Regions from separate parts of the Homo sapiens genome. Here all the other regions are linked to region 1. Evidence: fine-mapped expression QTL. A gene starts in region 1. Each other region holds a variant in brackets. All regions are shown on one strand. Distances are between the middles of the regions.

Region 1 (6,108 bases):
TTCACCGTGTTAGCCAGGATGGTCTCGATCTCCTAACCTCGTGATCCGCCCACCTCGGCCTCCCAAAGTACTGGGCGCGTGAGCCACCGCGCCCGGCTAAATCTTTTATTTTCGATTTTTTTTTTTTTTTTTTTTTTGAGACGGAGTCTCGCTCTGTTGCCCAGGCTGGAGTACAGTGGCGAGATCTCGGCTCACTACAACCTCTGCCTCCCAGGCTCAAGCGGTTCTCCTGCCATAGCCTCCCGAGAAGCTGGGATTACAGGCGCGCACCACCACGCCCGGCTAATTTTTGTATTTTTAGTAGAGGCGGGGTTTCACCATGTTACCCAGCCTGGTCTCGAACTACTAACCTCAAGTGATCCGCCTGCCTCGGCCTCCCAAAGCACTGGGATTACAGGCGTGAGCCACCGTGCCCGGCCTCTTTTTGATTTTTGCACGAAACGACTCCGGCTGTATACCCACTGCTGTCACTTGCTGCCCTGTCCAAGGAGTGCTGCCGGACTGGGGAGTCTGTCTGACTCAGAATCGAAGGCGGGGGTTAAAGACCAGCTAGGCCATAGAGGAACGGAACAAATCACGCCTAACCCAACAAGCATCTGAACCTACAGGCAGCCCTAGATACCTACACGAGCAACACCCGGGAAGCAGGAGTCAGATGGACTGCGGGTCGCTGACCACTGCCTTGCCCACCCCCGCGCATGCGCGACGACCGCACCAGCGCCAGAGGAGTCCCACGCCAAGCAGCCCCAGACATCGTGGGAGGGCGCCGTCTTCTCGCGCATGCGTTAGCGCCCGCGCATGCGCGCCCTCGGCAGCTGTCTTTCCTTATTAGCCCTTTGCTCTCCTCAAGCGCGACCCGGACCCCGAACGCTGGACGCCTCAACTGCGACCCTCACTCCACACTTCTCACCTTGCGCCCGGTTTTCTCCCGTAGGGCCTTCAGCCGTTCCTTTCGCCGCAACGCCTCTTCCTCTAGCCGGCCCACACCAGCCGTAGTTGCCTCCATCTTGCCCGCGTACGCCCCTCCTTTTCTCCCGTCTTGCATCGCGCAGGCCTAAGGAGAGTGGATAAATGTCTCGCGGCCAATCCAAGGACGAGAATGAGAGACTGGGAGGTCCTGAAAGCCAATCAATGCGGGGTTATTATGGGCGAGCCCTCCCCGCCTTGCCCCGCCCCGCCCCGCCCCGCCCTTATTCTTCCGGACAACTTGCCTAGTGGGTGGGGAGCCAGCAAAAAAAAAAAAGAAAAAAAAAAAAGCTAAGGCTCGATTTATCCAACGCTGATCAGTGAAAGAGCAGCAAGTGGAATTCAGACCTGAGAGAAGGAGAAAAGAGTGCGTCGATCGCTCCGGTTTTGCCCAAGTACTAACCACACTAATCACTCCATGCTGGCCTCTTGGAATGCCCTGACTCATCCTTGTCCACTTGACCTGACAAGGCTCGAATGCCTTCAAGAAACCTTCCCTGGGCCGGGCGCGGTGGCTCACGCCTGTAATCCCAGCACTTTGGGAGGCCGAGGAGGGCGGACCACGAGGTCAGGAGATGGAGACCATCCTGGCCAACATGGTGAAACTCCATCTCTACTAAAAATACAAAAATTAACTGGGCGTGGTGGCGCGTGCCTGTAATCCCAGCTACTCGGGAGGCTGAGGCAGGAGAATCGCTTGAACCAGAGAGGCGGAGGTTGCAGTGAGCCGAGATCGTGCCACTGCACTCCAGCCTGGCAGCAGAGCAAGACTCCGTCTCAAAAAAAAAAAAAAAAAAAAAAAAGCCTTCCCTGATCCTCCACTTCGATCCCACCCTAATACAAGGTATGACTTACACCTCTGCAGCTGTCAGTGGCTCCCCGGACTCACCTGACAAGCGCCCCTAAGCCCCTCTGTGACCACTCTCAGCTCAGACAAAGCCTGCACAGTGAGGGGGACCTGACTGTATGGCTGTTTCCCTCTGGACTCAAAGATGATCCCCTCTCATTCCCATCCCCTCCTGGAGCAGCAAAGTCCTCAGGGTCAAGTTACCTTTCCCGGGGAAGAGCAAACCCCAACCTGGGTCCAGTGGGCCTCAAGTACTGCCCCCAATCCCCAGCTTAGAAAGACTTGGGGTGGCCTCGACTGCAAGTCGCCACAAGATTCATGGCTACCCAGCAGAAGCTGCCAGAGTCTTCTTTCCTGCATGAACTAGAGTGTCCTGATAACCGCGAGACCACTTAGGCTGAAGTCAAGATATTCTTTCAGTATGTGGGGGTCCCCAAAGCCACACCCCCTCTCACTTGGGAATAGGAGACCATGCCGCCCCCTCTCCACCTCCACTGCCAGGGGACAACTAGCCTCTTAGGCTGTTCCCTCCCTGAGTCTTCCCTTCCCAAGCTGGCTACAGGTGGACATCCACTCTTCCCCTTCCAACTCCCTTCAGAGGCCCATGGGCCACAGACTGCAGATCTAGCCCTCCCTTCACTAACCCTCTTGTCCTCACTAACCTGGGTCTGTCTAAGCCTTCTTCCCTGTAGTGGATGGGTTGCTCTGCCAAGGCCTGGCATGCAGTTTGGAGGTGCTCAGGAAACCTCAGCTCAGAGCTATGATGGATGAAGCAGGACAAAAGGCCAGAGGTGAACCAAGAAGCTGGGAGAACAAAACAGGACAGGGTCTCTGTTGTCTTGGCCAACCAAGGTCTAGGAGTCTCCAGACTGGTCAACTCCTGGAACGAGTAGCACCCCTCTGGGCCCAGAAAACTTCTCCCCAGCCCCAACAAAGAGCCTGATCCCTGCCCAACACCAGGGGTTGGGTCCCTGCCACCATCACCCCGTGCCCCTTTCCCCGTGTCCAGACTGTGAGGTAAGGGGATGGGGAAGGGGGCACGGGGTGATGGTGGCAGGGACCCAAAAAAGAGTCAGTCAAGCCTGGGTCCCTGCCCCTGCTGCCCAAGTGGTCCTCATTTGGTCAACTTGGGCCTCAGTTTCTCCATCTGTAAAACAGAGCCGGCCGGGTGCGGTGGCTCATGCCTATAATCCCAGCACTTTGGGAGGTCGAGGCGGGTGGATCATGAAGTCAGGAAATCCAGACCATCCTGGCTAACACGGTGGAACCCCGTCTCTACTAAAAATACAAAAAATTAGCTGGGCCTGGTGACACGCGCCTGTAGTCCCAGCTACTCAGGAGGCTGAGGCAGGAGAATCACTTGAACCCAGGAGGCGGAGATTGCAGTGAGCCGAGATCGAGTCACTGCACTCCAGCCTGGGCGACAGAGTGAGACTCTGTCTCAAAAACAAACAAAAAACAGAGCCATGAGGCACCCACCTGTTGAGGTTAAAGAAACAACATATGTGAAGCAAGTTCTGGGCCCTGGAGTTGGGGAATGGGGGGAGCCCCTCCACTGGAGCGTTTGGGAAGGCTTCCTGGAGGAGGGAGGGGGACCCGTGGCAACGGTCTAAGCCTCTCTGGGATCTGGGAGGGCACCGCGGCCCCGAAGGTATTTCAGGCTAGTCCTGCTACTCTCTAACTTCCCGCCATCACACTCCACAAACAGCTAGAGCTCAAAAGTTGCGTTTCGGTCTTCCCATAAAGCGACAGAGTAGCACCTGGCATTTGATAAGCGCTACAAGGGGTCGTCATGGTGGTGGTGGAGATTATTGTTGAAGGACCCTCGCCACCTCCACGCGGCCCGCCGCCCCTTCCCTGAATGGCGGCAAATGCAGTCAGGCGAGCAGCGTCCTGGGCGGATTCAGACCCTGGGGAAGTCTGGAATTCCTCACCCCGACCCTCGTCCCGGAGGCTCAGGCTGGCCCTTCCAATGGCACTGGTGGGGCAGGGCAGCGGGGCACCCTCCCGGGCCGCCCGGCCCATAGGCCCCTCCTCCTGCCAGGCTCTCCGCCCTTTACATGGTCCCAGGAGAGGCGGGGCGGCGGTGACTGCAGCGAAGTGCAGGAAGCTGGGCGGCGGCCGGCAGTGAGGAGGAGGAGCGAGCAGACTTGGGTGGCTCTGCGCCGCGGAGGCCACAGCCGCAGACTTCCCCAGTAGTACCGCGCCGCTCCGCCCCGGAGTGACGCCCTCCGCCCATGGGCCTGGCCGAGGGCAACCGGCGGGCGGCGCGGAGGAGGCGGCGACAGGTGGCGCGCAGCAGGGCCGGAGCCGGGCCGGGCCATGGCCGCCTCGGAGCGGCTGTACGAGTTGTGGCTGCTCTACTACGCGCAGGTGAGCCCGCCCCGCCCCGCGCCCGCACCCGCACCCGCGGTGCCCCCAGCTTCGCGCGCCCCGCGCCTGCTGCACCTGGCGCCCCGCGCCGCTGGGGCCGCGTAGCCGCGCGCGCGGGCGCGCGCGCGCAGGGCATGCTCCGGCTCCGCACACACGTGTGTGCCCCCAGCCCGCCGGGTGCCTCTGGCACTTATGCCTTGGGGACAGAGCTCGCGGTCGTGCACTTCATAGCAACCCACCCCCGCGAGCAGGACCGTGCAGCCTGAGTCTTTCTTGCTAGAGGAGAGTGGCCTGGGCCGAGGCGGCCGGACACTTGGCCTTTTTACAAATGGGGAAACTGAGACCTGGAGAGACCTGGAGACTGGCCAGGAGGCTAGGGGGAGGGGGACTCAATTTGTCTATGAGCTGCCTCTCCCTTGGGCGCGGCCTGATTGGGTGGTCGTGGCCAACGGGTCTGGGGGTGTGGGCCAAGGTAGGGAGGTGTGTGGAAGGGGAATGCTCCCACTTCAGGTCCTTCTTGAGTTGCATCCCCCCACACCCCAGCGAACAGGCTGTGATAAGCTCTTCCCTGACTTGAAATGACCCACCCCACCCCACCCCCATTCTGAGGGGTAGACCCAGGACCTCTCTAGGAGCAGAAGAAAAGGTTTTCCTCTGGATGCCCAGGGTGAGGGTGGGTCCTTGAGGCCCTGAGGGATGTCTGAAAAGGTTGGAGGGAGGCCCGTTCCTCCTGAGCTCCCCACCCATCTCAGAAAATACTTCAGGTGGAGTCAGAAGGTGAGGGGAGTGACTCAGACGTGGGTGTCCCATCAGCTGAGAACCTGGTATCACTCACACCGTCTCACACACATAGTCCCCCATTTTCCTTCTGTACCCACAGCAGGGAGGGATCCCAGGGTAACACTCCCCTCCCCTTCACCCAGCACCTCCCTCCCTGCACCTGCCTGGCATCATGCTCCTGGCTCAGGTGTGCCCTGGGCACAATGGACCATTGTGTGCCCTGAACAGTTTGTCAGTGGGGGGAATTCATGCTCAGACACGCTGGCCCTCCATAAGGAGGCTGGCCCACTGTCTTCCACGGACCTGGAGTCCAGGCCAGAAGGACCACAGCCTCTTCAGTCCGCTCAGGTTGTGAGAGGTCCAGGCCCCAGCAGGAGGCCAGGCATGGAGTAGAGTCCCTCTTTGGTATAACTCAGATCGAACTCGACTTCTGAGCCTCTGCTTCCTGCCTGTAAAACTGACACAGCCCTGGCCGGGCACGGTGGCTCACACCTGTAATCCCAGCACTTTGGGAGGCCGAGGCGGGCAGATCACAAGGTCAGGAGATCGAGACCATCCTGGCCAACATGGTGAAACCCCATCTCTACTAAAATACAAAAATTAGCCGGGCGTGGTGGGGTGTGCCTGTAATCCCAGCTACTCGGGAGGCTGAGGCAGGAGAATCGCTTGAACCAGGGAGGCAGAGGTTGCAGTGAGCCGAGATCGCGCCACTGCACTCCAGCCTGGTGACAGAGTGAGACTCCGTCTCAAAAAAATAAAATAAAAATAAAAAACTGACACAGCCCTGACCTCAGGGGCTTCCTGGACTCTGTGGAGAGGTAGCCATTATAGCTGGTCCAGACCAGAGAAGGCTCCTGTTTTCCTGGCCCCATTGGGTCCCCTCGCCCCAGCTTCTCTGCCTGCATCCCCAGTGGTTGTGAAGGAGCAGAGGGTTTGAAGAGAAGCCTACCCTAGTCCTCCTTCCTCGGACTGCCCCATAGCTATGGGCAGGCTCTAGGTGCATGGGCAGGTAAAGGGGGCTTAAACCAGCTGGTGAGTGTGAGGGATGTTAATGATAGGTCTTCAGCCTGGGTGGCAGGCTGCTGGGAGTGTCTTGGTATCTCCCAGGACAGTAACTCCAGCATGGTTGCCTCCTGATGCCC
Region 2 (6,311 bases), 27 kb before region 1:
GATCTGATTCCCCATTCAGTGCTTCACCAAGAGTCAGCAGGAACAGGTGGTGACTACCATCCAAGAGGCTGGGATTAGCTAAGAGCCACTGCTCTCCTGTGGGTTCATGTGTTCCCTAAAGGCTTCTGAGCAGAGCAAGAACAAAGCGCTGAGCGGGAGGCTGGGAGAACAGCGAGGCTAGAGATAAGGACTGGAGATAAGGACGGGAACTAGGTCAACAGCGGTGGACTAGAACAAGGAGGTGCCTCAACGCTGTGGGGAGACAGGGAGGAGCAGAAACAACTGAGGTTCTGCTGGTGACTCACTGGGGGAAGGAAGGCGCCTTTGACAAAAAGGTGGTGGCACTTAGGGGACAAAGAGAAAGGGTGTGGCAGCCTTCAGGCATTCTAACGGTGAGGCTTGACACCCAAGGCCTGACGAAGGTTGGTGCCAAGGGATAGCACCTGTCAAGGTGCCCTCAGCGGTGGAAAGGAGGGCCCGCTCCACTCAGAAGAGAGGCACGCTGGGCCCCACCATCCATATGGCACCTCAAGGGCCAGGCCACGGCATGCCTAGTGCAGCTCCTCGCCAGGCCCGTCACACGGCCCTGCCCAGATATCCTCCATGTGTCTGTCAGGAGTGTGGGGAGCCAGCCCAAGTCAACTCTGATCCTATTCTTGCTGCAAGTGCTCAAGGGAGGCACTACAGAGCTCCTCCAGCAGACTTTATCAGTCGACAAATACTGACTGGCTCCCCTGTGGTACTCCATGCTGTACTCAGATACTCCATGCTGGGTACTGAGGAGGAAGAGGAACGAGTAGGCACCTAGTGCCCACAGAGCAGGGCAGGGGTTCTTATCCTCGGTGCACAGATTCCAGAGGTCAATGACCAGACAGAAACACAGGCGAGTGTGAGAAGGTGAATCTTAGTGGATGAGAAATCTGGAGCTCTTCAGATTCTCAAGGGGGTGGTGACCCACAGGGGAAAAGGGAAGGTGTCAACAGCCAGGGAAGGCAGTGTTTTTTTGGGTGGCATTAAGAGGTGTCTACAGAGGCTTTCCAAAGGAAGTGTCACCTTAAAGGATGAGTGACAGTGGGGACAGAGGGACGGAGGGGGAAGAGAGCAGAGGGAACAACCAGAACCATTAGTATGCAAAAGGCCCCTCCCACTGCCCTGAGACTTCACCCACACTGGCCCCAGCAGGAAATAACCTCTTGAAAGGTCACACAGAGGGCAGGGCAAAGACCAGTCTCTTCCCCTTCCTTCATATGCAGCCAGACTGGACGAGTTCCTCTGGGAAGTCTGGCCTGGCTCCAAACTCCCTCCAGGGTCCTCCCTGTAGGGGCACTGTGGTATGCAGGAAGCCCAGCCTGCAGCCCTGGACTGGGCAGGTGGTGGGAACATCAGGACACACTGCTTACCAGTGGTGGGACCTCCCTGAGGCTCTGTCTCCTCCCCTGTCAAAGTGGGGCTGGCACTACTTTAACAGGGGCATGTGAGGATTATACAAGGCAACTTGGGTCCACCATGTGGTACAGGGTCCCGCATGACCCTGCACCATGAAAAACTGCCTGCTGGCCGGGCACAGTGGCTCACGCCTGTAATCCCAGCACTTTGGGAGGCCAAGGCAGGTGGATCATAAGGTCAGGAGTTCGAGACCAGCCTGGCCAATATGGTGAAAACCTATCTTTACTAAAACTACAAAAATTAGCCGGGCATGGTGGCGGGCGCCTGTAGTCCCAGCTACTCGGGAGGCTGAGGCAGGAGAACTGCTCGAACCCAGAGGTAGTGGTTGCAGTGAGCCAAGATTGCGCTACCACACTCCAGCCTGGGTGACAGAGTGAGACTCCATCTCAAAAAAAAAAAAAAAAGAAAAGAAAAAAAAACTGCCTGCTGACATCTTGCAGTGTCCCAAGTCCTGCTGTCCCTCAGCGATGGGCCTAATTCGAACCCTGGTTCTTGCTGCATCCCTCTTAGGGAACCTGATGCTCCTTCTGTTCTCACCCACCCCTTGCCCTGACACAAAAACCAAGAAAGCACTTAACAAGAACCCAGGACCCAGCACCCAGGGCCCAGATCCATGCTGGGAAACAGAAGGCCTATTAGTATTAGACCAACCAGAAGAGAAATTGATCTACATTTGCATTTTTTTGAGATAGGGTCTCGCTCTGTTGTCCAGCTGTCCAGGCTGGAATGCATGGTGCAATCATAGCTTACCACAGCCTGAAATTCCTAGGCTCAAGTAAACCTCCCACCTCAGCCTCCTGCATAGGAGTAGCTAGGACTACAGGGGCATGCCACCATGCACAGCTTTTTTTTTTTTTTTGGGGTAGAGACAGGGTCTAACTATATTGCCAAGGTTGGTTTCGAGCTCCTGGGCTCAAGTAATCCTCCTGCCTTGGCCTCCCAAAGTGCTGGATTATAGGCATGAGCCACATGCCCAGCCCATTTTTTAAAATGTAACAACATTCATGTGAATGGAGCACATTATCCTTTTCTGAAAGTGCTACATTTTTTTGGCTAAGTCTCTGTATATGCTAAACTTAATTTTTAAAAGTGAGGCTCAAATGGAAATAACCTGTGTCCATAAATGGATGAATGAGTAAGAAAATTTAGTATATACACACAATGAAATACTATTCAGGCTTCAAAAAAAAAAGAGGAAATCCTGTCATTTGCAACAACATGGACAAATCTGGGGAACATTATGCTAAGCGAAATAAGCCAGGCTCAGAAAGACAAATACTGCATGATCTCACTTATATGTGGAATCTAAAACAGTAGAACTGGCCAGCCACAGTGGCTCACACCTGTAATCCCAGCATTTCGGGAGGCCGAGGCGGGTCCCAACTACCCAGGAGGCTGAGGTGGGAGGATCAAACAAGGCCACGAGGTCAAGGCTGCAGTGAGCTGTAACTGAACTACTGCACTCCAGCCTTGGCAACAGAGTGAGACTCGTATCTCAAAAAAATTAAAAATTAAAATAAAAAAATAAAAAGTAGAACTCACCGAAACAGAGACTAGATGGGTGGTTACAGAGGCTGGAGTTGCAGGAGAGGTGGAGAAAGTGAAGATGTTGGGCAAAGGACACAAAGTTCCAGTTAGGCAGGAGGAGTGTGTTTAAGGGAGCTACTGCACAGCATGGTGATCGGTTAATAATAATGTATATTCAAAATTGCTGAGCCTAGATTTTAAAGTCTCACCACAAAAAATGTTAAATCAGCTTGATTTAATCTTTCTACAACGTATATTGTAGAAACATCACGTTGTACACCATAAATATACAGCTATTATTTATCAATTAACAATTTTTAAAAAATCATTTTAGGGCTGGGCACGGTGGCTCAGGCCTGTAATCCCAGCACTTTGGGAAGCCGAGGCGGGTGGATCACGAGGTCAGGAGATCAAGACCATCCTGGCTAACACAGTGAAACCCCGTCCCTACTAAAAATACAGAAAATTAGCC[G/A]GGCGTGGTGGCGGGCACCTGCAGTCCCAGCTACTCGGGAGGCTGAGGCAGGAGAATGGCGTGAACTAGGGAGGCGGAGCTTGCAGTGAGCCAAGATTGTGCCACTGCACTCCAGCCTGGGCGACAGAACGAGACTCCGTCTCAAAAAAAAAAAAAAAAAAAATATATATATATATATATATATATACTTAATGAGGATCAAATTAACAATGATCTATCTGCTATCTGATTCCTTTAGGATTGTCAAGAGGCCCCAGGCTACAAGAACAGGCACCACCCATCTGTGAAGTTTCCCCACAGAATCCTTAATTCTGACCCCACCACAAAACTCGGTGGGTGGGTTTCAGCACATTCTCCTGTGTGGGCCAAAGGTCATGACCACTTTTAGCACAAAGGTGTTCTTCCCATGCCTTCTAATGATAACCATCCCAGACATATGATTCTACCTTTATTTCCCCACATGAGATTTTGTTTGACATCTGTCTTCCTTCCTAGACTGGAAGCTCTCAGAGGCCTCTCCATCACTGCTCACAGCACCTGGCACTAAGAGCAGCTGGACCAATAGTAAAGGAACCACCTGGGGAGGCAGAAGGCACATGCTAACTTCCCATGTTACAGGAACTTCTGTTGTGTGAGCCTTCCAACAGCACCCACGTATTCGGTTATCACTAGCCTTGTTGCACAGATGCAAGAACTGAGGCTGGACCAGGTCTGTGCATGTCATACCTAATACTCTTTCCATTGGGTAGAGCACAAGTTTTGGGAAATAAACAGAAGCCCAGCTCCCCGCTGCCACATCCTCAGTTCTTTCTACCACACATGCTGCTTGTTTATCCTTTAGTTGTCTGTTCTATCCTCTTTTCCAACAACTATCTGCACCTCTGCTTCTCTCCTGCAAAATGAAGACAAAAATCCCAACCCTGCCCACTTCTTGGGAGTGTGGTTTTAACTAGGTTCCATAAAATTGGAAGATTTTCCATTAGAAGGTGAGCCCTGGGCAGTGCCGAACCCAAATGTCACTCTTCTCTGTTCTGCATGTCTTACAACACTGTCAATTCTTTGGTAATAACAGTATGCCAGGCAACTGATTATTCCATTAATTAAACAGTAGTACTGATATTATCAAAAATAATCAATAATTAATCACTATGAAAATCTAATAAGGTCAGCACTCCTTTCTCCTACCACAGATGAGAAAAATGGAAGCCCAGGACAATTAAGTAACCCATCCAGAGTCACACAGCTAGAGGTTGCCAGGACGCAAATGGCAGGGCAGGCTTCAAGCATAGGCTGATTCCCTCTAGAACCCCTGCCCTTTGCTCTTGTCCCACTCCTGTCCCTACCTTTCACATGCAAATGGTTTCAAGTGTGTCTAGGGTGCCTCCATCTGTCATCACATGAGAGTTGACAGCTCTTTCTGGTGTCATTTCAGAGAGATACAATCAAACCCATCGAGAGCCCCAAATATTGTCATTTCTTGGCCAAGAACTCCAGTCCCAAAAGACATCACAAGGAAATAAAAGAGCAATGCATGCAGAGGTGTTTAGAGCTGTGTTTCTCACAGTAGGGAGAAGTGGAACTATGCAGTGAGCCCAACACCGTAGGGCACAGTTATGCAGGCCAGCATTCACATGATGGGCCAGGGGAGGCATTAAAATAGCGAGGCAGCACTATGCAACAGACAAACACACAAACGCCAGGGGTAAGAGTCCTATATTACATACTCATGATTGCAACCATGGCAATACCATACATACAAATGGCCAAAGACTTCACAGACTCGCACTCAACCGTGGGTAGTATTTTTTCCATCTTCCTTAATTCTGCTGTCAAAATGACTTAATAATAAAAGTAACCAGAGGAACCTAGCTGACTATGGCTCACTATCTTGACTCATACCCTAAACAGATTCTCTTGACCCTCACCTGGCTAAATGGGGAAGCAGGAAACCATGGCTGGCACTCAGGCCTGACACAGCCTTGTCAATGCCTAATGACTTTTCTCAAGCTTGGAAAAAAAAAAAAAAAAAAGTCCAGCTTTGCTGGTGCAGAAGAGGACAGGTTGAGCCTGCACACACCAGCGTCCCTCTGCAGCCTGGGACTCTAACCACAGTAGCAAATGCAGCAGCCAATTGTAGACTAAGCCCTCTTAAATCAGGATAGACATCTCCATTACTGGGGGGCTAAAAATGTCGGTTAAGAAACTAACTGGTGATGAGCAATGAAGTCACCTCCCCACCCTCTCACCCTACCCCACCATTTCCCTTTTCTTGGAGGGGAAAAAAGCCTCCTTCACCACAAAGCAGAATTCACAACCACTAGGACTTCCTCACCATTCTAAGCTCACGAGGGGAGCAGCAGTGAGCAAATCACAAAAGCAAATGATAAGGTCCATGCAGATTGGAAGACCCCTCCCCTGGTGGGAGACAGCTTCGTGTGGCACCCAGAAACCCCTTCCCCATTGCCTCACAGTGGACAGTCAGAGGAATCAGGCACAGGGGGCCCACCTGGTCAGTTCCAGGGACTGGAACAACCACCCAGACTCTCTGGTCCTGAGGACATGTGGCTGCTACCTGACCATCCCCAGATCTGTAAGGCCTGTAGAACAAAAGAAGGTGACCTTTCTCCACAAACTCTGGCTGGTAGATAGGATCCTTAGGCTGAGCCCAGGAGGGAAGAGGAGGAGAAAGCCCAACCACTATGTGTTCACTTTCGCTGGATCCAACAGAGACAGCAAGCAAGGACCTGAAAACCTCAGTGGGTGGCCCCTGTAAATGATACCCTTTCGCCTCCCACACACACCCTAGTCCCATGGCCCTGTTTACATCAATTCTGGATCCCCTAAAACAGTTTCCTTGATAGCTGCC
Region 3 (6,311 bases), 25 kb after region 1:
CTGGGTTTGGGGATGGGCCTCTGCTTGTTCTATGTGAACTGCCTCATCTCCTCTTGGGAGTCTGGCAAGACCCCAGGATTCTGCCTGGAACTCAGGTAGTAGTTGAGACCCCTATACCATTCTTCCAGGCCCTTAGTGCCAGGCTCACTGTTAGCCAAATGCTCTGACTCCTGGGTGGCTACCCCAGGAGGGGTGCTGAGTGGGGATGGGTGGGCGTCAGCCTGATTCCCTCCCTTAGCCGCCCACAACCCACGCCCACACCACCCACCTGTGCCCACAGCAAACCTCTGAGGAAGAGTTGTGCAATCTGCTCACCAACGTGCTGTTCTCGGTGACGTGGCGTGGCGTGGAAGGCAGCGATGAGGCTGCCTGGCGGGAGCGTGGCCAGGTTTTCTCAGTGCTCACCCAGCTGGGGGCCTCAGCCACACTTGTGCGCCCACCAGACTGCATCAAGCGCAGGTGAGAGGGAAAGTCTGGAGGGGGAGGGGCTTCAGGAAGCCTCGGGGGAAGGAGAGAAGATAGTCAGGTAGACCCTTGAGTTCCCCACTCACCCGCCAGCCTCCTGGAGATGATGCTGGAGTCAGCCCTGACCGACATCAAAGAGGCCCCCGTGGGGGTCCTGGCCAGCCTCACCCAGCAAGCGCTTTGGCTGCTGCGTCTGCTGCAGGACTTCCTGTGTGCTGAAGGCCATGGTAACCAGGAACTGTGGAGTGAGAAGGTGCGACCCCTCAGAGAGGCGTGAGCCACATGAACACTCATGTTCATGCAAGCCTGCAGGGATCTGGTCTGGGAGGTGGATGGGTACACGTGCGCAGGTGTGGGTGCATCAGCATGAATGCCTGTGAGTGTGGACTTGCCTGTGTGCACAAACCCTACCTGGCCCCCAGCGCAAACTTTACTTTGCTCCCTTTCCATGGACTCCTGGCCTCCCCTGGTGATGTCTGTTGGGAACCTGTTTTCTGTGGCAGCTCTTTGAAGGTGTATGCAGCCTACTTGATCGCCTGGGAGCCTGGCCCCACCTGGCCAACGGCACAGCTGATCTCCGTGAGATGGCGCAGATTGGCCTACGGCTTGTACTTGGCTACATCCTGCTGGAAGACCCACAGGTGAGCACAGGGTGAGCATGGGGGCAGGGGGCGTGTGAGATGTCGGGAGCTCCAAGAGTGGCTGGGTGCCACTCATCTCTCTTGCGCCCACAGCTGCATGCCCAGGCCTACGTGAGATTGCACATGCTGCTACAGACTGCAGTGCCAGCCCGCCGCGAGGAGGCCTGCTATGTGCTCTCCAAGCTGGAGGCTGCACTGGGGCGGGTGCTGAACACCTCTTCCTTGGAGTCAGCCACTGATGAGGCAGGGTCCCCACTTGCAGCTGCAGCAGCTGCAGCAGCTGCAGAGCGCTGCTCCTGGCTGGTGCCACTGGTGCGCACGCTGCTAGACCGTGCCTATGAGCCGCTGGGGCTGCAGTGGGGACTGCCCTCCCTGCCACCCACCAATGGCAGCCCCACCTTCTTTGAAGACTTCCAGGCTTTTTGTGCCACACCCGAATGGCGCCACTTCATCGACAAACAGGTGCCTGGAGGTTGGGGCCCAGGAAGAGGAGTGGGGGCTGGGGCCCACATCGAGCACTGTTCTCCTCTGCCCAATCCTCCAGGTACAGCCAACCATGTCCCAGTTCGAAATGGACACGTATGCTAAGAGCCACGACCTTATGTCAGGTTTCTGGAATGCCTGCTATGACATGCTTATGAGCAGTGGGCAGCGGCGCCAGTGGGAGCGCGCCCAGAGTCGTCGGGCCTTCCAGGTGTGCCACCCGGGGTAAGGGATGGGAAACTGCTCCACACATGCACCCAGGAGATGACTGACAATGTGGAGAAACGGGTAGGGCAGGCAGCAGCCAGGGGACTGACCTATTACCCCCACCCCAGGAGCTGGTGCTGGAACCTGCGCAGAGGCGGGCGCGCCTGGAGGGGCTACGCTACACGGCAGTGCTGAAGCAGCAGGCAACGCAGCACTCCATGGCCCTGCTGCACTGGGGGGCGCTGTGGCGCCAGCTCGCCAGCCCATGTGGGGCCTGGGCGCTGAGGTGGGCCGGGCTTGGGGCAGGGTCGCTGTGGAGGGGTGGGGCTTGGGAGGGAGGGAGCCACCTGGAGCCCCAGACTGCCTTTGGGGTGAGGCCAGGGAGGGATGGGGGTGTCTACAGCCTTCTACCGACCCATGACCTGGGGGACATTCTGCAGGGACACTCCCATCCCCCGCTGGAAACTGTCCAGCGCCGAGACATATTCACGCATGCGTCTGAAGCTGGTGCCCAACCATCACTTCGACCCTCACCTGGAAGCCAGCGCTCTCCGAGACAATCTGGGTGAGGGAGTGTGCTGAGATGGGTCCACCCAACTCGATTGTCCCGTCTCCTGTCCTGCCTTGCTTCTGCTGAGTACCCTTGGCCCCTTGCAGGTGAGGTTCCCCTGACACCCACCGAGGAGGCCTCACTGCCTCTGGCAGTGACCAAAGAGGCCAAAGTGAGCACCCCACCCGAGTTGCTGCAGGAGGACCAGCTCGGCGAGGACGAGCTGGCTGAGCTGGAGACCCCGTGAGTGGGGCCCTGGAGAGATTGGACTGGTGTGGTGGGCAAGGGGTCTGCTCCAGTGTGTGCATGCCTCTGTGGGATCAACTCCCTGAGTGTGTCCTCTTCTGCTGCCCGACTACGTCCCCCTGAAGGGACTGTCCAAAGCCAGATGGTGAGTGGGAGAGTCTCCTAACAGGGCTGAGAGTTGCTCTTTTAACAGCCAGGCACCTGAGGACAGCACTGAGAAACACAAACCAGAGCAGGAAGGGGGCCCAGGGAGTGGGCAGGGGCTGGGTGAGGGGAGCAGGGGACAAGGGTTGGCATCCTGGCAAAATATTCAGAAGCCCAGTGGGTGGCAGGTGGGGGACAGGGGCTGGGACCAGTAGGTTCTGGACCCTAGGCAGCCCCTCCCCATCTCTGGGAGTCATGAGAGTATATACCCCATGACTCAATGGCACTTGGATGCCCTTTGGGCTTGTGAAGAAGGGGGTCCCAGAGCCTACAGCGTGAGGTGGGTTGCTGGTCTTTAGGATGGAGGCAGCAGAACTGGATGAGCAGCGTGAGAAGCTGGTGCTGTCGGCCGAGTGCCAGCTGGTGACGGTAGTGGCCGTGGTCCCAGGGCTGCTGGAGGTCACCACACAGAATGTATACTTCTACGATGGCAGCACTGAGCGCGTGGAAACCGAGGAGGGTGCGTCCTGGTGGTGTGGTTTAGGAGGATGGCAGGGAATGGCTGAGCTCTGGGTGGGGCTGGGGTGAGTGACTCCCGTACCTGCTGTTCCTCCCCATAGGCATCGGCTATGATTTCCGGCGCCCACTGGCCCAGCTGCGTGAGGTCCACCTGCGGCGTTTCAACCTGCGCCGTTCAGCACTTGAGCTCTTCTTTATCGATCAGGCCAACTACTTCCTCAACTTCCCATGCAAGGTGGGCACGACCCCAGTCTCATCTCCTAGCCAGACTCCCAGACCCCAGCCTGGCCCCATCCCACCCCATACCCAGGTACGGAACCAGGTGTACTCGTGGCTCCTGCGCCTACGGCCCCCCTCTCAAGGCTACCTAAGCAGCCGCT[C/T]CCCCCAGGAGATGCTGCGTGCCTCAGGCCTTACCCAGGTGAGAGCCCTGGGTGTGAGGGATGTGAAGTCGGGACCCTGAATCACGGGGCAGTGCTGGACAGCCCACCTGGCTCACATCTTGTCTGCCCCTGTCCCCAGAAATGGGTACAGCGTGAGATATCCAACTTCGAGTACTTGATGCAACTCAACACCATTGCGGGGCGGACCTACAATGACCTGTCTCAGTACCCTGTGGTGAGGGTCCCACTCTGCACCCCTCCACCCCTGCCCCTCTGACCTGTCAGCCCTTGGTTCCCCCAAGTGTAGGTACCTGCCAGTGGGCCAAGCTCTGAGCTTGGTCAAGGGTAGATGTGCCAATGAAGACCTGGCCTCTGTTCCCTGCCAACCCCCAGAGGTCCCCAGCCTCACTCCCTTCCCCTCCCTGCCTAGCCTCTATTCCTCAAAAGGAATCCTGTTCCAGGACACTCTGTCCTTCTCCCCTGTGACCCCTCTAAGTGGTGCTCCCCCAACCTGTGGGCAGGCTCTGTGCCCGCCTTCTTGAGGGTGTGGGCAGGGCAGGGTGGGCTGGTAGGCCATCAGGGCCCTCATGCAGCCCCTGCTCGGGTGGGTGGCCAGTTCCCCTGGGTCCTGCAGGACTACGTGTCCCCAACCCTGGACCTCAGCAACCCAGCCGTCTTCCGGGACCTGTCTAAGCCCATCGGTGTGGTGAACCCCAAGCATGCCCAGCTCGTGAGGGAGAAGTGAGCATGTGGGCAGGGCTGGGCTCAGCGGGTAGGGAAAGGCGAGGGGAGGGCTTCTGCTGACACGTCCAACTGTGGCCCCAGGTATGAAAGCTTTGAGGACCCAGCAGGGACCATTGACAAGTTCCACTATGGCACCCACTACTCCAATGCAGCAGGCGTGATGCACTACCTCATCCGCGTGGAGCCCTTCACCTCCCTGCACGTCCAGCTGCAAAGTGGCCGGTGCGGCCCAGGGGCTGGTGGGCAGACTAGGGGGCAGATAAGGGGAGGAGGCTGGTCCTCCCCACATCCTGGGCCCACCCCTGGCTCCCTTCTTCCCTCCAGCCACAGCATCTCCCTCCCTGTCTCCATTCTCCCCACCTCACCTTGGCCCCGTGCCCCTCCCCCAGCTTTGACTGCTCCGACCGGCAGTTCCACTCGGTGGCGGCAGCCTGGCAGGCACGCCTGGAGAGCCCTGCCGATGTGAAGGAGCTCATCCCGGAATTCTTCTACTTTCCTGACTTCCTGGAGAACCAGAACGGTAGGTGTGAGGTGCTCACACTGGAGCGGGCAGGTGTAGGGATGGAGAGCAGATGGTGGAGTGGCCAGGGGGCAGTCGGGATGGACAGGGAGACAGCTGACCCAGTCCTCTGTGCCAGGTTTTGACCTGGGCTGTCTCCAGCTGACCAACGAGAAGGTAGGCGATGTGGTGCTACCCCCGTGGGCCAGCTCTCCTGAGGACTTCATCCAGCAGCACCGCCAGGCTCTGGTGAGGAAGGAACCACAGGCAAACGGCAGGCAGCCGGGGTTCTGAAGATCATGGGGGGTCAGCTGTCCCTGCACTGATTGCTGCCTCCCTACTCTCAGGAGTCGGAGTATGTGTCTGCACACCTACACGAGTGGATCGACCTCATCTTTGGCTACAAGCAGCGGGGGCCAGCCGCCGAGGAGGCCCTCAATGTCTTCTATTACTGCACCTATGAGGGTGGGCAGTGCGCTGGACTCCAGTCAGGGCCAGGACAAGATCAGGTCGGGTGGATGCAGAGGGCACGCAGGGAGCCCTGACTGCTCTGCCTGCCTTCCCAGGGGCTGTAGACCTGGACCATGTGACAGATGAGCGGGAACGGAAGGCTCTGGAGGGCATTATCAGCAACTTTGGGCAGACTCCCTGTCAGCTGCTGAAGGTAAGGCCAGCTTAGAGGATAGTGGCCAGGGATGCCCATGCCATGGTGCTGACCAGCCACTTACCCACAGGAGCCACATCCAACTCGGCTCTCAGCTGAGGAAGCAGCCCATCGCCTTGCACGCCTGGACACTAACTCACCTAGCATCTTCCAGCACCTGGACGAACTCAAGGCATTCTTCGCAGAGGTGAAAGGAAGACAAGACCTCAACTTTATATTCTGTGAAATGGGTTTAACCCCACTGTCCTTACCAACCACGTGGGGCAGATGGGAATCCTAATCAAGGTCACTGATTTCAAGGCACCTTAGAAAATGAGCTAAACATGGGAAGAGTATGGGGGCAGGAGGGGTGCCTTCTTCATCAGGGCCAGGATAAAGTGTCGACTCAACAAGCTCTGAAAGCCTTAGGGAGATCAGGAGGGAGATCTGTCCTTGGACCCCTTCCATCGCCTTCCTAGACAGGAACATTCCTGAATGTTGCCCCCAGGCCTGACTTTTTTTTTAGGTTTCCCTCTCTTCCTGCCTTTGGGCTAGGGGGACAAGGAATAACAGGGTGAGAGGACCAAGTTGAAACTAAGTGTGATACTCTGGAAGCATCTTCCATGTCTGTCCCAGCTTCTCACCCACTTTCTGAGATGCCCTCCTAAAGTCTCTGCCTGTTTCTTGGAGGGAACCTCTGCATCTGTGACACCTACTCTATGACCCCTGGGGACTGACAGTAAAGGAAGGGATGATGCTTCAGGGAGCAGATAGTGTAATCTGATAGTAC

Evidence for each region. PIP is the estimated chance that this variant, and not a neighbour inherited with it, causes the effect. A credible set is the group of variants that fine-mapping cannot tell apart.
Region 2: its variant is the best candidate, but not a certain one, in a credible set for the expression of NBEAL2 in blood mononuclear cells (TOPMed, PIP 0.77).
Region 3: its variant is the best candidate, but not a certain one, in a credible set for the expression of NBEAL2 in whole blood (TOPMed, PIP 0.76).

Annotation. Positions count from the first base shown.
Region 1 is chr3:46,975,727-46,981,834 of GRCh38, forward strand. It overlaps NBEAL2 (neurobeachin like 2), which reads left to right and starts at 3,940. Exons shown (of 54, transcript NM_015175.3): 1 at 3,940-4,186. The coding sequence starts at 4,136. CCDC12 (coiled-coil domain containing 12) reads right to left here and starts at 1,019. Exons shown (of 7, transcript NM_001277074.2): 1 at 911-1,019. The coding sequence starts at 1,006. RefSeq lists enhancers at 1-205, 206-907, 1,611-2,311, 4,214-4,994, 4,995-5,775 and 1 more and silencers at 1,132-1,271, 3,667-3,856, 3,957-4,296.
Region 2 is chr3:46,948,192-46,954,502 of GRCh38, forward strand. All of the region lies in intron 1 of CCDC12 (coiled-coil domain containing 12), which reads right to left. Among named protein-coding and RNA genes, the nearest start is that of CCDC12, 25 kb to the right of the region's middle. RefSeq lists a silencer at 48-342. The variant G/A (reference allele first, on the strand shown) is at 3,446.
Region 3 is chr3:47,000,721-47,007,031 of GRCh38, forward strand. It overlaps NBEAL2 (neurobeachin like 2), which reads left to right. Exons shown (of 54, transcript NM_015175.3): 28 at 281-459; 29 at 559-718; 30 at 969-1,106; 31 at 1,200-1,568; 32 at 1,651-1,800; 33 at 1,925-2,082; 34 at 2,237-2,361; 35 at 2,454-2,589; 36 at 3,096-3,256; 37 at 3,357-3,673; 38 at 3,775-3,870; 39 at 4,252-4,376; 40 at 4,461-4,601; 41 at 4,769-4,899; 4 more. Among named protein-coding and RNA genes, the nearest start is that of NBEAL2, 24 kb to the left of the region's middle. The variant C/T (reference allele first, on the strand shown) is at 3,636.